2 separate regions of the Homo sapiens genome follow, and region 1 is linked to region 2. The links come from fine-mapping of genetic effects on gene expression. Tissue or cell type: uterus. Region 2 holds a variant in brackets; the other region holds the start of a gene. All regions are shown on one strand. Distances are from middle to middle.

Evidence for each region. PIP is the estimated chance that this variant, and not a neighbour inherited with it, causes the effect.
Region 1: ZGRF1 starts here. The variant in region 2 is fine-mapped to the expression of ZGRF1 in uterus (GTEx, PIP 0.96).

Annotation. Positions count from the first base shown.
Region 1 is chr4:112,630,660-112,641,097 of GRCh38, reverse strand. ZGRF1 (zinc finger GRF-type containing 1) reads left to right here and starts at 4,189. Exons shown (of 28, transcript NM_018392.5): 1 at 4,189-4,247; 2 at 7,856-7,942; 3 at 9,088-9,168. The coding sequence starts at 7,922. LARP7 (La ribonucleoprotein 7, transcriptional regulator) reads right to left here and starts at 3,955. Exons shown (of 13, transcript NM_016648.4): 1 at 3,859-3,955. RefSeq lists enhancers at 3,403-3,512, 3,553-3,602, 4,173-4,392.
Region 2 is chr4:112,692,484-112,702,921 of GRCh38, reverse strand. It overlaps the pseudogene GET1P1. Among named protein-coding and RNA genes, the nearest start is that of MIR302CHG, 48 kb to the right of the region's middle. The variant C/G (reference allele first, on the strand shown) is at 5,090.

The DNA.
Region 1 (10,438 bases), 62 kb after region 2:
AAAATAAAGTCCAAAAACCTTACTGTGGTTGACTGGATCTTAAATAATCTGGCCTGGGGATCTCTCTAATTTCATCTATCACAATTCTTGCCAACAGGCTCAGTCCAAACATAACAACCATCTTTTCGTTCTTTAAACATGCTAAAGCCATTCCCACTTCAGGGCCTTTGCCCTTGTTGCTCCCTTTACCTTCCTTACCGTATCTGTATGAATTACTTCCTTGTTCACTTAGGTCTCTGCAAATGTCACTTCTTAGAGAGACTTACCTCTTTCCGCTCAATCTAAAATATTCCCTCCCTGCTGACCTTAACTCCGTCCACTGCCTCAGTCACTATTTTTTATTCTTGTATCTTGTTGTCACTACCTGGAATTATAACTTTATTTTTTATTTTTAATTATTTATTGAGATGGAGTCTGTTGTGCAGCCTGGACTGCAGTGGCACAATCTTGGCTCACTACAACTTCTGCCTCACAGGTTCAAGTGATTCTCCTGCCTCAGCCTCCTAAGTAGCTGGGATTACAGGCAGCTGTCACCACACCCTGCTAATTTTTGTTTTCAGTAGAGATGCGGTTTCATCATTTTGGCCAGGCTGGTCTCAAACTCCTGACCTCAAGTGATCTGCCCATTTGGGCCTCTCAAAGTGCTGAGATTACAGGTGTGAGCTACCATGGCCGGCCTGGAATTTTAATTTTATTGTCTACCTATCCCACCAGAATGTAGACACTATGAAGGCAGGAACTTTAACTTCATCAGTACCTAAGTATCTGTTGAATAAAAAAACAAATTTAAAAGTACCTGTAAAGTGTTAAGCATTTCAAATTCTTTGTAAGGTTGTGGGATGTAAATAAAATACAAATAGGCCAGGTGCAGTGGTTCACGCCTATAATCCCAGCACTTTGGGAGGCCGAGCCAGGTGTATCACTTGAGGTCAGAAGTTCAAGACCAGCCTGGCCAACAAAGTGAAACCCAGTCTCTACTAAAAATAACAAAATTATCTGGGTGTGGTGGCCCATGCCTGTAATGCCAGCTACTCGGGAGGCTGAGGCAGGAGAATCGCTTGAACCCAGGAGGCAGAGGTTGCAGTGATTCGAGATCGTACCACTGCACTCCAGTCTGGGAGACAGATTCAGTCTCCATCTCAAAAACGAACAAACACAAACGTAGGCTATAATTATCAATTATTCTATAATTGATAATTATAATTCTATAATTGATAATCTATAATTATAAATTATTGATAATTATCCAATTATCAATAATTCTATCCAATTATTCTATCCAATCTCTTGTTAAATCCTATCAGTTTGACTTTTGAAATGGCTCTCATCTCCATCCAGTGTTTTCTACAACTACTGCTACAACTGTCACTAGAATATGCCAATAGTTTATAAACTGTTCTGTAAGTCACCCATTCTCAACAGGAGCCTATGTATAACCCATCTAAAACACAGACCTGGTTTTGTGATGCTTCTGTCAAAACTTGCAACATTAGAAATTCCTTAGCACCTTCCCGTAACATAATATGCAGTTTATGAAAACACTGTTTTAAAAAAAAAAAGTAACACTTGGCCAGGCGCGGTGGCTCACGCTTGTAATCCCAGCACTTTGGGAGGCCAAGGCGGGCGGATCACGAGGTCAGGAGATGGAGACCATCCTGGCTAACAAGGTGAGACCACGTCTCTACTAAAAATACAAAAAAAGAAAAAAGAAAAGAAAAAAATTAGCCGGGCATGGTGGCAGGCGCCTGTAGTCTCAGCTACTTGGGAGGCTGAGGCAGGAGAAAGGTGTGAATCCGGGAGGCGGAGCTTGCAGCGAGCCGAGATCGTGCCACTGCACTCCAACCTGGGCGGCAGGGCAAGACTCCGTCTCAAAAAAAAAAAAAAAAAAAGTAACATTTAACTGGCTTTAAATGAAGAATAAAAGTTATTGGGTAACAATACCAGTAACTTTATATACACTTTTGTAAATCCTCACAATCCCACTAGGTAGCAGTTTCTTCCATCTTAACACAAAAACTCAAAAAGGTTTAAGTGACTTGGCCAAAGCTAGCTAAGTAAGTTGTCCCAGGTATGTTTGATCCCACATTGTCTACCTTTTGGTAGAATTTCCCGCAATTTATCACCACGGACTCTATGTTCTGACTCAGGAATTCTTAATCTGAAGTCCATGCAACTTTGGCTGGACAAGAATTCTAGTGGGCTCCATTAAATTGTAAATGATACATTTTAAAGATAAGGTAAAATCAAGACTCTTGTACAAATATAAAATGAATACACGGTAAAGATTTAAGCACAGTCATGGGTTGCTTAACGACAAGGACACATTCTGAGAAATGCACAGTCAGGTGAGTAAGTACATCATTGAGTATGTAGTTATTCTATGATGTATTCACACAAACCTAGGTACTATTGCCTATTACTCACCTATAATCTTATGGGACCACTGTCATACATGCGGTCTGTCGGTATGTGGTGCTTGACTGTAAATAAGGGAACCAGTTAAGTGCTAAAAACCAGTTCAAAGGAGAATTTAAAAAGCAGGTACACAGGCAATCAGGAACGTTGAAATGAATATTAATAAATACTGCTCAGGACAATAATTAATTGCATCTTTACTGGACAAACCTAATTTCCATGTTGCTGTAGCGAGTTACAGGGTTGAAAAATAGTTCAAAGACCACGAAAGACATAGATAACTTGGAAGAGTGAGTCAGACAAGACACCAAGTCATTTGTGTGTGTTTGCTATTTAAAAGTATTTCGTAATTTCTCCTGAGGAAATTATATGAAAAATGTTTGTTTGGAGACGCAGCCTCTCTCAGTGGCCCAGGCTGCAGTGCAGTGGCGCGATCCCGGCTCACTGTAATCTCTGCTTCCCGAGTTCAAGCGATTCTCCCAACCAAGCCTCTTGAGTAGCTGGGACTACAGGTGTGCACCACCACTCCCCGCTAATTTTTGTGTTTTTAGTAGAGACGAGATTTTGCCATATTGGCCAGGCTGGTCTCGAACTCCTGACCTCAAGTGATCCTCCCGCGTCGGCCTCCCAAAGTGCTGGGATTACAGGCGTGAGCCACCGTGCCCAGCCTCGCAAAATGTTTTAATAGGTACATGCACGTTTTCCTGAGAAGCTAATCCATATAATTAAGTTTTCAAAAGAAGTGTGCCACAACAGGTTAAGAATCATTGTTCTGGTCACTGCTTACAACTCAAGTCCCTCAACACGTAGTGGCCTGTGTGTTCTGCTTTGTCTGAATCTTCTCGTCTAAATTTCCTTATTAAATTTTCAAGGCCCAGGTTAAATGGCATCTTACTCTTTGAGATCTTCCACCACCCTGTGTCCTATCATTTGTTTTCTCTTAAGTTTCTTTGCAAACGCACTCTGCACACCATATCTAGCAAGTGTTAGTTCCCTTCCGTAACTGGATTTTTTACTCTTTGAGGACGATGGCAGAGTCCTGCAAAAGAAGATGATAATTTTAGAATATAAATCCTCACGTTCGCTATCTTCTGGCAGCCACAGCTCAGCTCCAATCTGCGAAATACGGCACTCTCTTTATTGACTACTGCTTCTCTCGGCACCCGTACTTCCGCAAGGACGCCGTCATAGGCCGGGCGCGCCCCAAACCTCCCCACGCCGGGCCCCTATGCGCCCTTACTGTCTGAAAACGGGAACTACAAGTGCTGCCGAAGACTTTTGCGCGTGCGCATAGATAACTAGGCCAAGGAACTGATGGGTGTGCAGGACGGGGGGGCGGGGTAAGAAGGACGATAGATGATAGAGTGGACCGCAAGAAAAAGGACGGAGAGTTAATTAGACTTCGCCCAAGCTGTGCGACCCTATAGGCCGCTTGTAACTTACTCCGTTCGACTCCCAAAATACAGGGTCAAGTACTGCGGCCTTCGGACATTTCCGTCTCCGGATCCTGATAGTCTCGGTTACTTTCGCGTCATAGGATGAGCGACAACGTTTTCCGGTCCCAATTGAGAAAGACGGGCCCGGAGGCAGTGCGCGCTCCACCTACGTCACAGGCGAGGTGGTTCCAGGAGGGCTGGGCATCGGAGAGCGCGGCCGGCTGAGAGACTCGAAGCCAAGGAAGAATTTGATTGGCGATTTGAAAGCGGCGGTTTTTGGCTTAGGCGGAGGTGGGCGGGCCAAGTTTTGGGTCCTCATCTGGTGAGGTCCCGCGTTAATGACGTCACGTTGTTTCGCGGGAGAAATTCGAAAGTGGATTTTGTGCAATTTGACAGGTGAGGTGAAGTGTTTCTCGGGATTTCCTAGGAATGACTTGAGCGATTTGGGGCGAAGGGACGAAAGACTCTGCTCCTTAAGAAGAGAACCGGGAAGGATGCTGTTTGGAACCAGGATTGGGGTGGTCGCAGTCACAGCTACTCGGACTGCTTGTAGTAAGTGGTGCCTCTTCACCGTTTTTCCCAGGCCTTGCTTTGCAATTTCGAGTAGGTATGAGGACCAAAGAGGGCTTTGCTGTTTGTATTTAGGACTGAGAAAGGATCAAGTCTCCATTGTCATTTGGTGACAGGATTATGGTTCTTAGAATCTTGGCAAATGAGATGTGGGTTTCCTTTGTTTATTTGGACTGGATGGTTTGTTAACAATGTTGAGTTCATGATTCCAAAACTTTGTTATCCGAACTATTTAGAGGTTCAGGTTTAGGTTCAAAAAATACTCCTTGTTTAAAAAAAAAGGAAAAATATCTAGTATTTAAATGAATAATGGCTCATACTTTACTGAGAACACCGAGTTTTATGTATATATATTGCGTCCGTACATATAGTAGCACAATGTATATGTATGTATATGTGTGTATGTACGTATATCTGTGTGTATGTATGTATGTATATAATTATCACAGAGCATCTGGGGTCTTTAAAAACTTATTTGGAGATTAATCTTTCACCTATTAGAAGTCGGTCAACAGGTGAATTGTCTGGTAGACGTGGACAGATGAACACTTGGAAAAAACTCTTTGCATCTCACTTAAATATATATGATGCTGTTGTCTAAAATAATTTTTTCTGATTAATACTAAGATAAGAAAGGGTGTTGACTTTCAATGAATAAGTATTAGAGCTCTTCTAAATTTTAAAAGATCCAGTTAGCTTTTTTTTTTTAGGTTTTCTCCTATAATCGAATTTAACCATCCTTTAAGAGTTTCAGTCTTCTTAGTTCTTTTTAAACTGTACATTCCAGAAGTAATATCTCAATTTAGGAAAATAATGGAGAATTTATCTTGCAATTGTGAAATAGCATATAAGTTATCCTAAACTAGTAAATACTGGGTTCCTAATCTGTAAATTGTAATAATGCTTATTCTTCAGGATTATGAGACTGATAAATACTGTATGTAAAGTATCTCGTCCAATTCCTGCCTGATACATAGTATGTAATCAATAAATATATATAATTACACACGATAATCATATAATTGTATATTACATAATACAGTAATATAGTTATATATTATATAATTACATAATAATTATAATGTATATAATTAACAATATAATGTATATAATGTTTATAATATAGCACTTTGGGAGGCTGGAAGGATTGCTTGAGCCCAGGAGTTTGAGGCCACAGCGAGCTATGATTGCAACACTGCACTCCAGCCTAGGTGACAGAGTGAGACCCTGTCTCTGTAAAAGAAAAAGAAAAGTTAAAAAGCCAACAGAAACAAAACCTCCAAATAAAGCATTTAACAGTTTCTAGCATATGGTAGCACTGAATAAATGGTAGCTATTAAACAGATCTGATATTAATAATTGCCACATGCCCAGCACTGTGTCTGTACCATGTATTCTCATCTATGTATACAGCATATCTAGCCCAGGAGTGTTTTTCTCGATCTCTCTTTTATCTTCTTGGCATTCTTAGGCATCAGCAATTTATGTACGCCGGAGGGGAGGGAGATAGGATGTGGAAGTTGTATTTCTTTTTTTTTTTTTTTTTTGAGATGGAGTCTCGCTCTGTCGCCCAGGCTGGAGTGCAGTGGCGTGATCTCTGCTCACTGCAACCTCCGCCTCCCGGGTTCAAGCAATTCTCCTGCCTCAGCCTCCTGAGTAGCTGGGACTACAGGCCTGTGCCACCATGCCCAGCTAATTTTTGTATTTTTAGTAGAGACGGGGTTTCACCATGTTGGTCAGGCTGGTCTCGAGCGCCTGACCTCATGATCCACCCGCCATGGCCTCCCAGAGTGCTGGGATTACAGGCGTGAGTCACCACACCCGGCCAGGAGTTATATTTCTGAAAGGCAGTCCTTCTGTAGGTTTGGTTTCTGTCCTGTGACCTGTGTCACGAAGCAAGTATGCATATCTCATTTGCATACCCCTTACCTATTCTTTCTCCAGATCACCTTGATTAGTCAAGGGAAGATGCCAGTCACTTTCTTGCACTTCACCGCCCCCGCCTCGCCCTTTTATTTTTTTTTTTTGAGACAGTTTTGCTCTTGTCGCCCAGGCTGGAGTGCAGTGGCGTGATCTCGGCTCACTGCAGCCTCTGCCTCCTGGGTTCAAGTGATTCTCCTGCCTCAGCCTCCCAAGTAGCTGGGATTATAGGCACGCACCACCACACCTGGCTAATTTTTGTATTTTTAGTAGAGACAGGGGTTTCACCATGTTGGCCAGGCTGGTCTCGAACTCCTGACCTCAGGTGATCCACCTGTCTCGGCCTCCCAAAGTGCTGGGATCACAGGCCTGCAATTCTTGTTTGGGAAGACCTTCACTGGCCTTCCCTTGACTAAGGGTTATTTCAGCTTACAGCTTAGACTTTACTTCCTTGAAGAAGCCTTGTTTGATGATCCACACCAAGCTGGGTGCCCCTGCTGTGCTTATTCCTGCCTTATTTTATTAAAATTACTGTTTATCACCCCGCCATACTGAAATTCCTTCAGATGGAGGATAGAGTTTCCATTTAAATACTTTAGCATAATATCTGGCACAATAGTAAGTACTGAATAAATATATGTAACTTATAAATAATATGTAAGTGGCATATTTTATATGTCTAAAAGAGGAACTGAAATCACAATTACAGCTTTATTGAATCCTTCTAGGTCTTTTAGATCTGTATTCTCAAACTTGAGTGTCCATCAGCATCACTTGGAGGGCTTCTTAAAACACAGACTGCTGGGCCCCCAACCCCAGACTTTCTGACTTAATAGGTCATTTCTTACTAGTTCCCAGATGATACTGTTGGTCCAGGGGTCACATCTTGAGAACCACCTTAGGGGAAAAAAAAGAAAGTATGTTTCTTTGGCATTTCTGTTTACTTCTTCAGGGATCACCATCAGTGATTTTAGATTTCCAAATTTGCCCACAAAAACAGTTTTATCCAATAGCATAACAACTACAGTAACTGTTGCAACAGTGTTGGAAAGATTTTTCCTTGTAGAGGTACTATGTAATTGGTCCTAGATACTGTGGTATATTGATGCTAAGAAGTGAAAGGAAAAATTTAAAACACAAGGGGGCCATCTTGTGGTAACCGTAGCAATTCAGAAAACTTTAAAAATTGAATTTGCGCTATAGGGAACCAAACATGTGGAGGACAAATTCGTGTTTTCTGATACATATTATGCATCTGGAAAAATGCAGACTACAAGTTAATTTATGTATTTTACTTAGTTTTTTCTTTACTTATGAAAAAATGCTTGTTTCACAGCATGGTATCACTTTTACTGTGTCCTCAGTGATAGATAATTACACCTCTGTTTCCCTTGGTAGTTAGGTAATCTTGGAACTCCTTGATTCATGTCTGTGGTTGGGAGTTTATTGAGAAAAATTATATTTGATATTTTTTAAAAATCAGGGTTGAAATTTTATGTCATTTTTAATTTTAGGTGGTATAAATAGTTGAATATTTCCTATTTTCTGGACCCAGCTGGTTTATAACTTCAGAAGAAATAATGGAAAGCCAAGAATTTATTGTAAGTTTTACCATTTTTCACAGTTTGGTGAAATTCCCTTCCTCTGTCTCTTTCTTTTAAAGGCGTTTCACAAACATCTTGCTGTGTTGCCAGATTTAGCAAAAACAAAACAAAAAACAGGCTACTCAGTTAAATTTGAATTTCAAATAAACAATGCATACCTTTTTTAGCATTAGGATCCCAAATATTGCACAGTATTTTATCTGGTAACCCTATCTGTTACCTACTATTCATATTTGTTACACAAAATCATCACTTTTCAGCCTTTTGGCTAAGATCAAGTATTAGACAAAGTCCTTTGTAACATAATCTTTGAAAGTGTGAGACCGGGAAACAATTTCTTTCTCTTGAAGAACTGGCATCCGTCTTCTGTATAGATCAGCAGTTCTCACACTATTTGGTCTCGGGACTCTTTAACACTTAGAAAATTATTGACCCCAAATAACTTGTGTATATAGGGTCTTACGTCTATTGATGTTTTTCATATTAGAAGTTAAAGCAGAAATGTAAAAAGTATTTATGATTTGGCTTAATGGAAGACAACTGGATTCTCATATTTGTTTCTTCTACATTCAGATTGCAATTGAATCTTACAATATTGCATATACATAATCCTGGGAAACTTCATTCTGCACCCCTGAAGGAGTGAGGATGAAAAGACAGCATCATGAAAATAGTTTTGACCTCACAGATACCTGTAAAGGTCTTGGAGACCTCCAGGAGTCTCTGGACCAAACTTTGAGAACTGCACAGATTATTAGTACTGTGTAATCCAGTAATTTTTTTCCCTTCCAATTGATGACTAGGGAGCTCAAATTACTTTCAATGCTCATTTATCTTTTTTGTTTCTTCCTTGGATTTCTCCTCTCCTTTCTTCCTTCTCCTGCCATTTCCTCCCCTATTCCCTCCCTCTCCTTCTCTCTCTCCCTTCCTTCCCTTATTTATTTCATTTAATTAATATTTAATGTTATTGTCATGCTATCTGTGCTTTTGTTTTTAAAATTTAAAAAATTGATATGGGTGTATGTGCCTTTTTTTGATGAAAGGTGCCTTAAATATATTTTGTATGTAGGAAGGATATATAAAATACATAACATTAAATATATATAAATGGAAACCATTTCTTTTGTATTTTTGGAAATAAGGTTCTATATACTCATCAAAAGATGAAGAAGTCAAAAGTGTGGCAAGATGGAATTCTGAAGATCACTCACTTAGGAAACAAAGTGAGTACAAAGCAGTTGACTATAGGGTGCAAGAGCAAGGTTCTCGATTTTTGATTGAATATTTAAAAAACTGTACATGATAAAATGTCAGATATATCCATACACTGAAATGATGTGAAAACAGATTTTCAAATGATCCCCATATCACAGTGGTTAATTTGTGCGTTATAAAAATAGTTCATTAATAGATAGAACGAATAAGATCTGTTATCCAGTAGCACAGTACAGTAACTATTGTTATTTATTTTTATTTTTTTTGAGACAGAGTCTTACTCTGTCACCCAGGCTGGGGTGCAGTGGCACGATCTCGGCTCACTGCAAACTCTGCCTCCCGGGTTCAAACGATTCTCCTGCCTCAGCCTCCCAAGTAGCTGGGACTACAGGCACCCGACACCATGCCTGACTAATTTTTTTGTATTTTTAGTAGAGACGGGGTTTCACCATGTTTCCCAGGCTTGTCTCGAACTCCTGACCTCAGGTGAGCTGCCTGCCTCAGCCTCCCAAAGTGCTGGGATTACAGGAGTGAGCCACTGCCCCCGGCTGAGTGACTATTGTTAATGATAATTTTTTGTATATTTTTAAAATAACTCCAGGAGTGGAATTGGAATGCTCCTAACATAAATGATAAGGCCAGGCATCATGGCTCATACCTGTAATCCCACCACGTTGGGAGGCTGAGGCAGGAAGATTGCTTGAAGCCTGGAGTTCAAGACCAGCCTGGGCAGCGAAGCAAGACTCTGTCTCTACAAAAAAATTAAAAGTAAATAAAAAAGTTTTTAAAAAGTTATAAACTGCTTATTATATGCTAGGCATAATGCTTTAAAAGTATCAACTTACTTAGTCTGCATAACTCTCCTACTAGTTAGGTATTCTTTTAATCTTTATTTTACTGAAGATGAAACTGGGGTACAGAGAGATGGAGTAGCTTGCCCAAGGGTCAAAGCTGGAAGGTGGAGGAGCCACATATGAACCTAGGCTTTTTGTCCCCAGGGCCCATGTCCTAACCATTCTCCATTCTACTGCGTCTCTTTTTTTTTTTTTTTGAGCCAGAATCTCACTCTGTTGCCCGGGTTGGAGTGCAGTGGCATGATCTCGGCTCACTGCAGCCTCCGCCTCCCACGTTCAAGCAGTTCTGCCTCAGCCCCCCAAGTAGCTGGGACTACAGGTGCCACCACCACGCCCGGCTAATTTTTTGTATTTTTAGTAGAGACGGTTTCGCCATGTTGTTCAGGCTGGTCTTGAACTCCTGACCTCAGGTGATCCAAATATT
Region 2 (10,438 bases):
ACCCTGGGATGAGCTTCATCTTTGCTTATAACTGCTACGTCTAGACTCTTGTCCCTACCTCTTCCCCTAAAAAATCCAACTGCTTTGAAAATCATGATAGACCACCGCAACTTCTCTTTGTTACAGACATTTACATTTCCTGAAGGCCTTAAAAACCTTACTTTCTTCTTCTTCAGCAATATCCTTGTCATAATTCTTGTTAATTTTTTAAAAATCGACATAGGTCGGGTGCAATGGCTCACACCTGCAATCTCAGCACTTTGGGAGGCCAAGGCAGGTGAATGATTTGATGTCAGGAGTTCGAGACCAGCCCAACCAACATGGTAAAACCCTGTCTCAACTAAAAATAAAAAAATTAGCCTGGCATGGTGATGCATGCCTGTAATCTTAGCTACTCGAGAGGCTGAGGCTGGAGAATGGCTTGGGCCTGGGAGGTGGAGGTTGCAGTGAGCCAAGATTATGCTGCTGCACTCCAGCCTGGGTGAGAGCATGAGACTCCATCTTAAAAATAAAATAAAATAAAATAAATCCACATAGACAATTAGACAATGCCCCTGTTAACCTGCAATGACTTGACCTCCACCCCACCCCAGATATACACTGTCTACTCCCATGTTCATACCCTAGGGTTTTTTATTATTGATATTTGTCCCCTCTCTATGACCACACTATCAAGCATTCCATTCTCCGGTCATCACTTACTTTCTTTCCAACTGACTTCCTATACTACCCTATCTCCAATAATTCTGTAATCCCACTAAAACCTCCAACTCTGCAGCCCTACTATCTTCACACTATCCCTACTCCATTGCACGTCCCCATCCTCCTCCTAACTCAATTTGGATTCCATGAACCACTATTATATTATTACAACCACTGCCTTGTATGTACTTCAACTTGCCTCTTTCTCCCTCTGCCATACTCACCTGGCAAAATGAAATCTCAATTATATCCATTTTTCCATCTACTCTAAGCCTGCACCCATGCAATATACACCTGGAGAAAAATGCTGAGAGGTCTCAGTGTTGCTGGACACTAATTTCAAGTGGGCCCTTGTTGGCGTGTGGTAATCCTTCATATTTCCTTAATAAATTGATTCTCCCACTTTTCAAGACAATCATTAACACATTAACAACTCTCTCCTCAAACTTCCAGTGCTGCCCCTGAATTTTTTTTTTTTTTTTTTTTTTGAGACAGGGTCTCACTCTTGCCCAGACTGAAGTGCAGTGGAGCAATCTAGACTCACTGCAGCCTCCACCTCCTGGGTTCAAGTAATTCTCATGCCTCAGCCTCTGGAGTAGCTGAGATCCCAGGTGCACGTGACCATGGCTGGCTAATTTTTGTATTTTTAGTAGAGACGGGGTTTCACCATGTTGGCCAGGCTGGTCTTGAACTCCTGACCTCAAGCAGTCAACCTGCCTCAGCCTCCCAAAGTGCTAGGATTATAGGTGTGAGCCACCACTCCTGGCCTGGATTCTTCATTCTCAACTGATGACCTTGTTATTTCACCAAGAAAACAGAGGAAGTGAAAAGAGAGCTTCCACATAGTTTCTTCACCATTATTATATTCATCTGCCCATATGCCGAATGATGCCTTTTATCTTCTTACCATGAATGAATTGTGCATGCTCTTATGAGAGGCCAAGCCCTCCACTTGGGCACTTGATCAGATCTCCTCAAATTTACTTGTGAACATCATTCTTATAAGTACTCTCCCTCCTCTCTCTCCCTCTGGCTCCCACTTTCCCCTGTATCATCTATTTTCCCTCTCTACTGGCTCGTTCCCATAAGCATACATCCCTGTCCCTCTGTAATTCCATGCTTCTGCTCCACGTATAGAAAACTTTTTCTGAAATGTAGTCTGTACTTGCTATTTCTGCCTTAAATCCACTACCTTCAGGTTCCCTCCTTACCATTTCACCAAAACTATTCTTGTCAGTGTTGCCACTCACATCCATGTTGTCATATACTTTGGTCTATTTTGTTTTGGATTTTTTTTTTATTTGGATAAATGTATGAGGGTACACATGCAATTTTGTTACATGCAAACATTGCGTAATGGTCAATTCAGGACTGTTAGGGTATCCATCACCCGAATAACGTACATTGTACCCATTAAATAACTTCTCATCCTCCAGCCCCCTCCCACCCCCTCACCCTTCAAAATCTCCATTGTCTACCATTCTACTCTCTACATTTATGTATACACATTTTTAAGCACCCACTTATGGGTGGGAACATGCAATACTTGTCTTTCTGTGTCTGGCTTGTTTCACTTAACATAATGACCTCCAGTTCCATCTTTGTTGCTTTGGTCAATTTTGGTCAGTTCTTGTCTGACTTATCTTCAAAACATATTTATTTGACATAAATTTCTTCACTTGACTTCCAGGAGTCCACACACTGTCTTGGTTTTCCTTCTGCCTAATGGGCTGCTTTTTTAAAATCCATAATCCCAGCCCTTGGACCCCTTTTCTCTGTCTATGCTCACTCCACAGCTAATCCCACATATTCCCATGATTTTTTTGTTTGTTTGTTTGTCTGTTTTGTTTTGTTTTTTGAGACGGAGTTTGTTTTTATTGCCCAGGCTGGAGTGCAATGGCGCGATCTCAGCTCACCGCAACCTCCGCCTCCCAGGTTCAAGCTATTCTCCTGCCTCAGCCTCCCTAGTAGCTGGGATTGCAGGCATGTGCCACCATGCTTGGCTAATTTTGTATTTTTAGTAGAGACAGGGTTTCTCCATGTTGGTCAGGCTGGTCTCGAACTCCCAACCTCAGGTGATCCGCCCACCTCGGCCTCCCAAAGTGCTCGGATTACAGGCGTGAGCCACCGCGCCCAGCCATTCCCATGATTTTAAATAGCATCTATAGCTGACAACTCCCAAATCAGATGTCTGGCCCTGCAGCTTCCCCTTTTGCCAACTGACTGCTCTCCATCTCCACCTAGATATCTGGGAATCTGGGAAGCATCTCAGACTAAGCATGCATAAAGCTATGTACTACTCCTCTAGCAGCCTTCTCCATCCCAGTAAATAGCAACTGTATCCTTCCAGGTGCTCACCTCAAAACTTTGGAGTCATCCTTGACTACTCTCTCTCATACACACATCCAGTCCATTAGAAAATTCTGTTGACCAAGTCTTCAAAGTATGCCCAGAACCTATTTCCCAGTCATACACCGCTGCTTAGAAAAGTCCAAGCCACCAGTCCCCTCTTTCTTGGATTATTGTAATAGTTACCTATAACTCTAACACCTATTCTTAGCAAGTCATTCAAAATTATCTCTAAATATAAACCCAATCATTTCATATCTCTCCCTAAAATCCTCTAATGGGACGGACACAGTGGCTTACATCTGTAATCCCAGTACTTTGGAGGCTGAGGCAGGTGAATTGCTTGAGGCCAGGAGTTCAAGACTAGCCTGGGCAACACGATAAAACCTCATCTCTCCAAAAAATACAAAAATTGACTGGGCACAGTGGCTCGCACCTGTAATCTCAGCACTTTGGGAGGCCAAGGCGCACAGATCACAAGGTCAGGAGTTCGAGATCAGCCTGGCCAATATGGTGAAACCCCGTCTACTAAAAATACAAAAATTGGGCCAGGCACAATGGCTCACTCCTGTAATCTCAGCACTTCGGGAGGCCGAGGCAGACAGATCACAAGGTCTCTACTAAAAATACAAAAAGTTAGCTGGGCGTGGTGGCAGGAGCCTGTAATCTCAGCTACTCAGGAGGCTGAGGCGGGAGAATAACTTGAACCTGGGAGGTGGAGGTTGCAGTGAGCCGAGATCTCGCCATTGCACTCCAGCCCAGGCGACAGTGCAAGACTTTGTCTCAAACAAACAAACAAACAAACAAACAGCCAACAACAGCAACAAAAATTAGCCGGGCATAGTGGCAAGCACCTGTAATCCCAGCTACTCAGGAGGCTGAGGCAGGAAAATCGCTTGAACCCAGGAAGCAGAGGTTGCAGTGAGCCGAGATCGCGCCACTGCACTGCAGCCTGGGTGACAGAGTGAGACTCCGTCTAAAAAAAAAAAAAAAAAAAAAAAATTAGCCAGGCGTGTGGCACACACCTGTCGTCCCAGCTACTTGGGAGGCTGAGGTGGGAGGATCACTTGAACTGGTGAGATCAAGGCTGCAGTGAGCTGAGATCGTGCCCCTGCACTTCACCCTGAGTGACAGTGCCTAAAATATGAGAGATTTAAAATACAATGCAACCCTTCTCTGTCATCTATCCTACCTATGTGTCCATCTACACAAATTCTCTAAACCTGCTCCATTCTCTTCGTTCCTAGCCTAGATGGAGATTTTTACCATCGACCAAATCACTCAAGCTAGAAACTTTAGTGTCATCCTAGACCTCTCTACATCTCTCAGGTTCTATGACTCACCACACCCAGTGAATTCTAATATGGTAGTCTCCTGCTTCTTTTTTTTTCTGTATCCTTGGCTTTAGTCGAGGCTTTCAGCCACTCTTTCAGTGTTTTGTTGTAGTTTCTTAATAATGATCCCAGAGTTCTTCCTATCCTGGAACACCCAGCAAAATTCAGCCAGAGTAACTTTCTTTTCAAAAACTCTCCCGTTTAAACAGCCCTGATGGCTTTCTATTGCTTCAGGATAAAATCTGCATCCCTTTGCTTTGAAATAAAAACCCTTCTAAATATTTATATACTTTTTGCATTAGGGAAGATATTCCTAAGACTGATCGTTATTTAAAAATTTAAAAGGCTGGGTGTGGTGGCTCATGACTGTAATCCCAGCATTTTGGGAGACCAAGGCAGGTGAATCACCTGAGGTCAGGAGTTGGAGACCAGCCTGGCCAACATGGCGAAACCTCGTCTCTACTAAAAATACCAAAATTATCCGGGCTTGGTGGCACCCGACTATAATCCCAGCTACTTGGAAGGCTGAGACAGGAGAATCACGTGAACCCAGGAGATGAAGGCTGCGATGACCTGAGATGCTGCCACTGCACTCCAGCCTCTGCGACAGGATGAGACTCTGTCTCAATAAACAAATAAATTAGAATAAATTTTATGGTTATATGTAAAATAATCTTTCAGCATTTCTTCTTTTTTTTTTGAGA[C/G]AGAGTTTTGCTCTTTTTGCCCAGGCTGGAGTGCAATGGCGCATTCTTGGCTCATTGCAACCTCTACGTCACCATGTTGACCAGGCTGGTCTACATGGTGACCATGGACCCTAGCAAAGATTTTCATTGTAGCACTGGTTATAATAGATAAAACATAAATAAACAATAACAACCTGGAAATCAGCTAAATATTCTAAAAGAGAGGATTGAGTACATACATTATGAAGCTTCCACATATTGGGATGTTTTATAGAATGTTATTCAGCCATTCAAATAATATTTTAAGCAAATATTACTGGCTCCATTGTCTCTATAATAAAATTGTTTCAAGCTATTAGTTGCCCCCACCCAGGCCCCACTTTGATGACATTTCCAATTTTTTCCATAACTGGCCTTTTGAGCTGGTTTCCTTCTGCCGTTCACTCATGTGTGTTCCTGCCGTTCTCCCTCCTCAGAAGACAGTCTTGCCTGTGACTCTGGCTTTATATATCCTGGGTTCCATCTGCGTAGAACGCCTTCACCTCTCTTCTTCACCTGACTAGCATCTGTGCAAAATTGAAAGGGGTAATAAATCTCTTTACAAAACAACAACAACAACAACAACAGCTAATGTTTTTTGTTTGTTTGTTTTGTTTTTTATTTATTTTTGAGATGGAGCCTTGCTCTTGTCACCCAGGCTGGAGTGCAATGGCACAATCTTGGCTCACTGCAACCTCTGCCTCCTGGGATCAAGCAATTCTCCTGCCTCAGCTTCCCGAGTAGCTGGGATTACAGGAGCCCACCACCATGCCCGGCTGATTTTTGTATTTTTAGTAGAGACGGGGTTTCGCCAAGTTGGCCAGGCTGGTCTCAAACTCCTGACCTCGTGATCTGCCTGCCTCGGCCTCCCAAAGTGCTGGGATTACAGGCATGAGCCACCACGCCCAGCTGGGTAATAAATCTCTAAAGAGAATTGGGCCCACTCCCAAATAAACATTTCAAATCAATATAAATAAGGTCCAAAACAATCTTAATACTAATCAACTAAAAGGGTAGGAGTTTCAGCTACACAGAACAAATCAATAGTCTGAAATTTAGATATTCTAGCTTAAATGGATCTTGAACCAAGTTTTATTCATATTAAATATAGACTGATTGTCAGGTGGCTGATGTTCAATGCTTTTCACATTAAGACTCCATCCTTCCTTTCCAACTTTATTTCCTGTCTCTTCTCTACATAAACCTTTCTTCAGCTGAATCAGTCTACTCAATCTTAAATAAAATCCCAAATTTATTCTATCTTCTGCCAAAAGCATGATTGGATTTTCCTGTACTTTTGCTATTACCTCATCCTAGGATAATTTACTGTCTATAGCAACCAAATAATATACATAATACTTGTATATTACTTATATAATATATATGTAGTACTTGTATAATACACATAATACTTATGCTGTATTGTATAGTTATTATTATTATTATTTTTGTTTTATATATATTTTTTGAGACGGAGTCTTGCTCTGTTGCTAGGCTGGAGTGCAGTGACACGATTTTGGCTCACTGCAAACTCCACCTCCTGGATTCAAGTGATTCTCCTGCCCCAGCCTCCCAAGCAGCTGGGACTACAGGCACACACCACCACGCCCAGCTAATTTTGTATTTTTAGTAGAGATGGGGTTTCACCATGTTGGCCAGGATGGTCTCGATCTCTTGAACTTGTGATCCGCCCGCCTCAGCCTCCCAAAGTGCTGGGATTACAGGTGTGAGCCACCACGCCCGACCTATTATTATTATTTTTGAAGACGAAGTTTCGCTCTTGTTACCCAAGCTAGAGTGCAGTGGCACGATCTCAGCTCACTACAACATCCGCCTCCTGGGTTCAAGTGATTCTCCTGCCTCAGCCTCCCTAGTAGTTGGGATTATAGGCACCCACTACCATGCCTGGCTAATTTTTGTATTTTTAGTAGAGACGGGTTTTCTCCATGTTGATCAGGCTGGCCTCAAACTCCTGACCTCAGGTGATCCCCTGCCTCTGCCTCCCAAAGTGCTGGGATTACAGACATGAGCCACCGCTCCTGGCCTATTGTATAGTTATTTATCTTTTATGCATATGTCCTATTTCCCAGTAGCTATGTTATTAACATCTTCATGTCAGGGGGGTATCATATGCTTACTTATAACCTTAGCATATGTTCTATGAATATAGGCATTAAATAAATGATAATTGTTTATGATTTGAGGAAATCACAAATGGAAAGAGCACTAGAACTGGGCATTTTTTTAACATAAGCACTTTAAAAAAGAATTATTTTTCTCCTTTTTCAGTCTTTTTTGGCTTTTTCAAACTAATAGAATTTATAGAGCAGCCAAATTTGGAAGAACACATTGGTCTTTAGGTGACAACATGTTGCTACCTTATTGCCTGAAGTTATTACAGACATTTTCTACCCTCATATTTACAAGTATGTCCCAATGTTTTACAAAATTTTATTAAAATTTTACATTGCTATTAAGCTAGAATTTTTTTTTGTAGAATTTTAATTATAAAGGTAGTACATGCTCATGGTAAATAGCATACAAACATTACAGAATTACATATAAAATGGGCTGTGTGCATGGCTCACACCTGTAATCCCAGTACTTTGGGAGGCTGAGGAAGGCAGGTAGCTTGAGCCCAGGATTTCAAGACCAGTCTGGGCAACATGGCAAAATCCCATCCCTACTAAAAATTAAAAAATTAGCTGGGTGTGGTGCATTCCTGCAGTCCTAGCTATTCGGGAGGCTGAGGCGGGAGGATCATCTGAGCCCAGGGAGATTGAGTCTTCAGTGAGCCCTGATCATGCCCCTGCACTTCAGCCTGGGCAGCAGAGTAAGACCCGTCTCAAAAAGAAAAAAAAAAAAAAGAAAGAATTACACATAAAGTGAAAAATAAGTGTCCTTCACTCCCTATTCCTGTAGTCCCATGCCCCAGAGGTAACTACTGTAAACTGCTTCTTTTTTATCCTTTCAAAACTCTTAGCACATGTATTTGCAAAGACAAGTGTATTTTGGGGATTATATTATACATGCTACTTGACAAGGTCCTTTGTTTTAACTTTACAATATAGCATGTTTCCATATCAGTAAATCGACTTCATTTTTATAATATTTGATACCCTACAAAAACCTTACATAACAAATATATAATAATTAAAATATTATATGAAACATGGTGGCTCACACCTGTAATCTCAGCACTTTGGGAGGCCAAGCCTGGAGGATCACTTCAGCCCAGGAGTTTGAGGTGAGCCTGGGCAACATAGCAAAACCCTGTCTCTACAAAAGTTTTAAAAATTAGCCAGGCATGGTGTCATACCACTGTGGTCCCAGCTATTCAGGAGGCCGAGGTGAAAGAATCGCTTGAGCCCAGGAGATGGAAGCTGCAGTGAGCCATGATTGCACCATTGCACTCCAGCCTGGGCAACAGAAAGAGACCCTGTCTCAAACAAAAACAAAAACAGAAAATAACAACAACAACAAAAATATGATATGATGACACAATATTGATATAAAGAAACTATGGATTCCTGACATTTTTTATTGAGTTGAGGTTTTTATTGAGGTAATTGTAGATTTACATGCAGTAGTAAGAAATAACACAGCAAGATCCCTTACACACTTTGCCTAGTTATCCCCATGTTAACATTTTACAAAGCTATAGTGTAATACCATAACCATGATATTTACGTTATCAATCCACTAGTTTTATTCAGATTTTTCCAGTGTTACTTATACTCATTTGTCCCTGCTTGCAAGTGTGTGTGTACTAAGTTCTATACAATTTTATCACCTTTGTAGATTCGTGTATCCACCTACCACAGGCAAGTTATTAAACAGTTTCAACACCTGGAGGACCTCGTGTTGCCCTTTTATAAACACTTCTTCTTAAACCTTGGCATCCATTTTGTCCATCATTTCTAAAATGTTATCATTTCAGAACTGCAATATAGGTGGATGCCAACATGATCCCCATGGAGCTACCATAGCTAACGGTGCCTACGCCACCAGGAGCGTCTAACATGGGCACGGCTAAGGCTAACCACTGGGCGTGGCTGCTGGTGCTCAGATTCCTGTTTGGGTGCAGTGTCCTTCAGATCCTACTCCCGTCCTTCTCTTTTATGTCCAGGGTGCAGCGCAAGGATGCAGAACAGGAGTCGCAGACCAAAGCAGAGATCCAGGATATGAAGCAAGAGTTATCCGCGGTCAATATGATGGACAAGTTTGCCAGATCTGCCAGGCTGGAAAGAAAGATCAACAAGATGATGAATAAGCTCAAAACTCATGTGAAAGTACAGACAGCTCAATCAGGAATGCTAAAATGGGTTATAAGTGTTGCTTTCTACAAATTGCCAGGTACCGTGATCAGGCTATAAGGCAGTCTTGTGGGGTTATCCATTACTTGACAGGGTCTCGCTCTGTTGCCCAGGCTGGAGTGCAGTGGGCCATCTAGGCTCACTGTAGCCTCTGCCACCCGGGTTCAAGTGACCTTCCCACTTCAGCCTCACAAGTAGCTGGCACTAAAAGTGCTTGCCACCATACCCGGATAATTTTCATATTTTTTGTAAAGACAGGGTCTCACCATGTTGCCCAGACTGGTCGCGTTTTCTTCCTCTGTTTAAAATGGCATTTGTTGGACAAGCATTTGTATAGTACTATGTACTTACTTGAAGCTGTTAATTTTTCATTACAATGTTTTGTAAATTTCTTCATGAGGCCATAATGCATTGTTTTGTGCTCAAATTTTGCATTGTATTTAAAGCATTCAAGTGAAATATATTTTATATAACATTTAATATTTATGCTCTGTTGAATGGAAAGAGGTAAAAAACAAATTTAGGAAGCCTGGTTAAATTAAACTGAACTGAAACCTGTTTGGCCCATAAAGCATAACTCTGCTAAACCTATTTTTTATACACATTTTTCTAATTAAAATTTTTGCAAGTGCTTCTGTGACTTTCTTCCCTACAGCCACTTATTTGCTATGAGGAGTCTGTAACTGACAAGTGTTGCAGAGGGTTTGCCCATTAACTGAGTAACCATAGCACAATAAAGCTAAATTCTATCACTAGTTTATAAAAGATCATATTTGTATTCTTGTGTTCCCTCATGATTGAATAAGTAGCTCATTATTATTTTGGCTAAGTGCTGCAGTCCTTTAGTTTATTGTCATGCTGTAGACCACCAGAGTGGATTTCAGGTTCCACTTATTCAAGCTCACAGATACCACGGGCTTAGTCAGCACCAAGTTTAGTTTCCAGAAAGGACACAGGACAGGGAACACAGCAGCAGCGCCATGGAGGACCTGGCACCAGTTTCCCGTGTCTCATC